Linked DNA regions of Homo sapiens: region 2 is linked to region 1. A link means that fine-mapping ties the variant in region 1 to the plasma level of a protein whose gene starts in the linked region. Region 1 holds a variant in brackets. A gene starts in the other region. All regions are shown on their forward strands.

Region 1 (2,905 bases):
GGCTGGGAGCCTGAGCCCCTTCAGCTTTGAGGGGGGTGATACTCCAGGCTGTTTGGGGTGGGAGCCAAAAAGAGTTGAGAGGCCAGGGCCCTTGGTGGAAAGGGGCACCAGCCTTGGTCTGAGATAGTCACAACCCAGGTGACGATGCCCTCTCAGCCAACACTGCCAACCTGACCCTGTCATCCCGATTGACAGCGCCACTTCAGGTGGCTGGGTGACTAAAGGGCTTGTCTTGGTGGGGTCTCCCACCCCTCCAAGACCCATTCTGCACAGTCCCTCCAGGGTTTGGGCAGGAGATGGCCAATCATGCGCCCACCTCTCCAGTGCTGCCTGCAGTCAGCTCGGCCTCCCCGACCTGCAGCCCCAGACTCTGCTCTCCCAGCACTGACTCACTCCTGCCTGGGAGGGGAATGCAGCATTCATGCTGTGTGTCCTGGTATTGGGAGGTTTCTGGGAAGGGCAGAGGATAAATGTGGCCCTGCCTGCTCCCAGGTATACCTAGGACCACCTGGCCAGATCCGCTCCCAGACGGCCTTGGACTGCTTGCATTTCCCCGGAGAAAAAGGGGTTAATAAATGGGCCATCCTTTCCTGAGCTCTGGGTATACTACCAGTCACAGAACGTCAGAGCTGGAAGAAGCCTTAGAGCTCAACTTCTTCAAGCCCCTCACTTTACAGATGAGGAAATGGAGGTGGTCCAGAGAGGGTCTGGGATTCCCAAGGTCACACAGCCCAGAAGAGATGGGGCTGGGTTAAGAACTCGAGTCTTCCACCTTTCTGTTCAAGGCTGTTTGTCTACCCAGAGGAAGGAGGCACTGCTGAATGGCTATGGCCTGGCTAAGAAGGTGATTAGTCAGTAGGGTGTGAAAATTCTACTTCAAGGGGTTCGGATTGGTGATCATGGGGATTGGCATGGCTGGGTTCCCGTCCAAGGTGTGGGCAGAGCTTCTACCAAACTTCAACATGGAGGGCTGACTTGAAGCTCCCTGTCCCCCTCACTCTTGCCCCAAGAAAAGAGGCCAAAGCAAGAGCAGATTCCCTAGGCAAGAGCAGCAGCACAACTAGGAAACCCCAAAGCCCATGCTCCGACAGGTGGCCCTTCACAGGGGGCAGCGGGACAGGCATCTTGAAGGGCATATGTCCTCGGAAGCTCCGAGCCTGTTTTCTGTAGTTTATAGTTAGAGCTCTATTTTGTTATGGTTTTTTAAACTTTTAAGTCCTGCTCTATTTTCCTGGGCAGGTTTATGTTGATGTTTACCCACTACAATTTTTTAAAAATATAAGCTCACATGCCTTTTCCCTGCCACAGCCAAACCCCCACTGCACCCTACCCACCCACCCCTAGCCCAGGTCAGCTTTCCTGGAGCTGGCTAATGAAAGCCTCCTCACCTCTTCCCAACCCTTACAAGCAAGGGTGCTAGGGGCTCAGCTATACGACCATTCTCCCTGACAGGGAGTCCAAACTTGGCCTAGCATCCCTCCTGGCCCCCCTCTGGCCACGACTTGGCCTGTGCCTGGTTCTCTATCAGAAAGGGGATGCTGAACAAAACCTCCTTCCAAGTTTTATCCAATTCGTTCCTCATTGCCTCGGGCTGC[G/A]TCAGGGGAAGCAGGGGACAGGTGTCCAGTTGCTGGGCCGAGGGAGGAGCTGGTTTGGCATAGGACCTAACCAGTGAAGCTAGAGGCTACAGCCACTAAACTTGCTTCAGGCCAACGATAGTTACTCACAAGTAAGTACCTTAATGCTAATGAGGTCCACTAAAAAGGGGAGGAAGGCAGACCTCCTGGGAGACCCACGAAGGGTTTTTAGCCAGGGAAAACTGAGCCCCAGGAAAACCTAACCACTGGGCAGGCAGAATTTGTTTGAGGGATAGAACGACAACAAAATAAATGTTCCTGCAGCCTGAGATTTCAGGTAGAGTACTGACTAAGGTTTAATAAGACAATAGGTGACCTGAGGACATGCAAGCTTGTAAAATGCAACAGCCTCCTGCTAGAGTGACTTGTACATGAGCTTGCTTGCAGAAGACTAGATTAGATGTTTCTCAGGATCCCCTCCTGCGCAGGGGTTCTCTGATTTTCGTGTTCTCTGCCCAGATGGGCTGGGGGAGTTGAGAGTGTGCTTATTTTCACTGCGATCATGAGACCACAGTTCTGGGTTATCTCCTCTCATACATCAAGCCCCAGAGGAGGCGGCAAGAGGAACAGCCACAAACAAGTACTTTACCCCACAGCTTAGTGGCCAGTAAACACCCTGGGGACTAGGAAAAGGAACCAACTGTAGGCACCTCTCCAGGGCCTAGGGAGACAAGTGTCCTCTCTTCTGCATACATTTGGGCTCCCCTTACAGAGCCCTTTGCCCTGGCTCTCTGGTCCTTGTTGCTCTAACAGTCCAGATGTACACCCAGCCTCAGGGGGAAGGCAGCTCTCTCCAGACAGAGTCTCAGGGCCCAGCAAGGTCAGGTTATCTGCTTTCATTCAGGGCAACAAATGATACAAATGGTGCCAGGGAGTGGCAAGGCCATGGGGGTAGGTGGGGGTGTCTTTTTCTTTTCATAAAGTAACAACAGACGAGACTGAGGTTAAACATCAGAAAAAAACCTCTGGAATGACCTTCCTCATTCCAGGAGGCCCTGGAATAAGGAAGAGGCTTCTTTCTGAGGGAGCTTTGAGGAATTTTGACAGCTGTTGACATGGGATTTGGGAAAGGTGAAGCTGTGACTGGAGGGGCAGGAGATGGTCCAAGTGTCCATCCAGAGATGAGACTCTTAGAATCAAAGTGTTCAGCCCAGGAAGTCTTGGAGATCCCACCTTCTGTGGCCCTGCACCTTATGGGAAGCCATTAAGGGGGCTCATCTAGGAATTCTGGTTACAGCCCAGTGCTCATCCCAGCGTATGCTGCCTCTTTA
Region 2 (2,905 bases), not on the chromosome of region 1:
CTGGTGCCATCGCGGTGCAAAGCCACGGTCAGGAGGGGTTCAACAGAGGAGTCTAGGCTCATAGCAGTAGGATCGGGTCCTTCGGGGTGAATTAAAGCTCAGGGGGTGGAGTTGTTGCTGGGAGCAAGGATCGGGTCACTTGTCTGCGCAGACTGATGCTCAAAGAGTCGGTCCTGCGCCGAGTCACTCCTATCCTCTCCCAGCCTTGCCCACAGTCACACCAAGCCACAAGCCCATGCACACCAAAACACCGTTTTATAGTCCTGTGAGGTGAGTTCCTTGGGGATGGGAGAGGGGGATCTCAGGACTGAAGACCCAGGAAGCAGGCACAGATTCCCAGCAATGGATCACGCCCCAGGAAGCACAATCTCCTGCACCCTCGGCTTCCCCTGTCCCCATATCATCATTACACTGTTGTCACTCCACCAGATATTCAGAGGCACAAACTGTCAGAGTCTCACAGGTACAACCACACACCCAGGCACACTGCCACACACAAATTTACCACGATACAAGGAGTTGCAGGGGCACAGCCATGGGGGACGGATAACACGGTACCGTCTCACAGGCAGCTTTGCAGTCACAAGCAAGAGGACACTGAGTCACACCTGAACATTAACAAACACTGTGCCCCCAAGCACGGACAGACACACACACGCATACTCAGATACCTGCGACACCAAGGATGAGGTACCCCAGGAACCAGCCCCAGGGATTTCCTGCTGTGGCCATCACGTCAGCACCTGGGGATGAGGACTGAGACTTAGCCGTGTCTGGGGATCTTCAGCCCAAGTCTCTCCATCCCTCTCTTTGTCCCTCCCTTTCTTCCCTCTGGGACGTTATTAGGTAGGCAAGAGCCTAGACCATCTACCCCCTCTCCCATCCATGGACCCAGAACCTAGAGAGACAGATTTAGAGACTGAGAGAGAAAAAGAGAGAGAGAGATGGGAAAAGAGAGAGAGAGAGAGAACTAGGTAGAAAGGAAAGTTTAGAGAAAGCATCTAGCCATCTGTGAATGGGGAGAGATGGTGTCTAGCCACCCACAAACAAGCATGGAGGGAAGACACACAGAGAATCAGAGCCGGAGAGACAGAGTGCTTGAGAGATATCCTCAGAGACAGTCTGAGAGTTAGACATGGAGATATAGATTCAGAGAGACAGAGAGACCCCTAACTAGAGACAGTGACTCCTAACTAGAGACAGTGAGAGATCTGTCTAGAGAGATGTGGAGACAGAAGGCACAGAGGCTGAGAATCCAGCGACATGGAGCTGTAGGGAGAGTTGGATCATGAACACTGCAGGCTTTTAGTGGGGGACCACCAGGCCTCTTACCCGGCCACCTCTGGGCTCCTGGATTCCACTGCTGGGCTGAGCTCCAGCCTGCTGCCTCCCGCAGGGGCCTCCTTGGGGCTTATAAGCATCCTCAGCCTGGGCTGGCCTGCCCCCAGGGGATGTGTTCCAGGGGTCAGGTGCTGCAAACTTCCAGCTCAACTCTCTCAGGCTGCCTCAACTCTGACCAGGCAGTGGTTGGGGGCCCAGAAGGGGCTGGCAGCAGGGTCTAGGGACCCAGGGAGGAGACCCCTGCCCAGATCCTAGACTCCACTCTCCTTTTTCTTTCTCTCTCTCTCTCTCATTCTTTCTCTTTTCATGTTCTTATTCTCTCTCATGAGATACCTCTCTCTTGCCTGTATCTCTCATTTTCTCTTTCTCTTCTTCTTTCTTTCTCTCATTCTCTCTCTCATTATTTTTCTCGTGTTTTCTTTCATTTCCTCTCATTCTCTCCTGTTCTCTCTCATGTTCTTTCTCTTTTTAAATTAAATCTCTCTCTCTCTCTCCCCTCCTCCTTCATCCCTCTCTTTCTGTGCTTCTCCAGCAAATTTCCCCAGGTTCGTATCCAGCCTACATCACGAACTATTTTTGGAACCTTGGGCAAGTGACTGCACCCCTGTGAGCCTGTTTTTCCAACTGTAAAACTGGAGTGACCATTATGCCCCATTTCCCAAGTGGATTCAAAGAGGTAATTCAGGGAAAGGCACACAGTGCCAGGCACATTGTAGGCTCTCGGTGAGCGGGAGAACTAAAAAGTCTTCGCTCAGTGAAAAGCAGCTGAGTGCCTACCACACTCCGAGCTCTGCGGCAGGTGCTGGGGCCACAGGAGGAACCAGCAAAGTCCTCGTCACTGGGGATCGCGTCCTACCCGGGGGCACAGACCATAAAGGAAAACTGCAGGGACCAGCATATAAGGTGGTGGTCGGGGAGACTCAGAGAAGGGGAACATTTAAGCTGAGATCCCAGGGAAGAGGAGGAGGAGGGTCGCCGCAGCAGGGGCGGTTGCGGGGTGCAGGGGAGAACTTGGCTCCAGCCAGAGGAGGGCAGGGCGGGTAGGAGGGCAGGGCGGGTAGGAGCGCAGACCGGGAACCGGGCGGGCCTGCAGGAGTTTACGTACCAGGATTAAGGAGCTTGGGTTTTACTTAAGTGCAATGGATTTTAAGCACGAGGATGGAGTGACATAATCTTATTTACTTTTTAAAAACTTCCAGCTTGGAGAGTGATGGTGGGGGCGGGGCGGGGGGCAGTGGCAACAGCCCAGGTGGGAGGTGACGGGGTCAAGGGAGAAGAGAGGTGAATGGACACGGGGTCCCCTCTGCATGTGGAGCCAAGTTACTGCCCGATGGATGGAAAGTGGGGGGCCAGGAGCAGAGGGGCCAAGGATGGCGTGGAGGCTTGGTCTGCTGGCTTGCGCTCTACGGATCTTGTGGAGACGCATAGGTGCGGGAAGGGGGGTGGGGGGTGAGAGGGTGCCGTAGACCGCGGAGGGTGCACGGAGGGGCAGGCCGAGGTCAGGACTGCCGAGAAACAGCGGGGACTCATCAGGGGAGAGGTGGTGTTTACAGCCACGAGGCCG

Alleles and levels. Positions count from the first base shown, and alleles are read on the strand shown. Strength reflects both the effect of a copy and how common the allele is.
With allele A in place of G in region 1, the plasma level of the protein whose gene starts at base 1,389 in region 2 is lower (weak association).

The links. A credible set is the group of variants that fine-mapping cannot tell apart. PIP is the posterior inclusion probability: the model's chance that the variant is causal. Protein levels are from antibody-based Olink assays in UK Biobank. Linkage for the fine-mapping came from a reference panel and not from the study's own genotypes, which makes the PIPs less certain.
Region 2: KLK4 starts here. The variant in region 1 is the best candidate, but not a certain one, in a credible set for the plasma level of the KLK4 protein (UK Biobank, PIP 0.52).

What each region holds. Positions count from the first base shown.
Region 1 is chr1:205,074,364-205,077,268 of GRCh38, forward strand. CNTN2 (contactin 2) reads left to right here. Exons shown (of 23, transcript NM_005076.5): 23 at 1-2,905. Among named protein-coding and RNA genes, the nearest start is that of TMEM81, 8.6 kb to the right of the region's middle. RefSeq lists enhancers at 791-935, 853-997, 1,303-1,447 and cis regulatory regions at 863, 925, 1,375. The variant G/A (reference allele first, on the strand shown) is at 1,596.
Region 2 is chr19:50,910,007-50,912,911 of GRCh38, forward strand. It overlaps KLK4 (kallikrein related peptidase 4), which reads right to left and starts at 1,389. Exons shown (of 6, transcript NM_004917.5): 1 at 1,333-1,389; 2 at 672-743. The coding sequence starts at 732.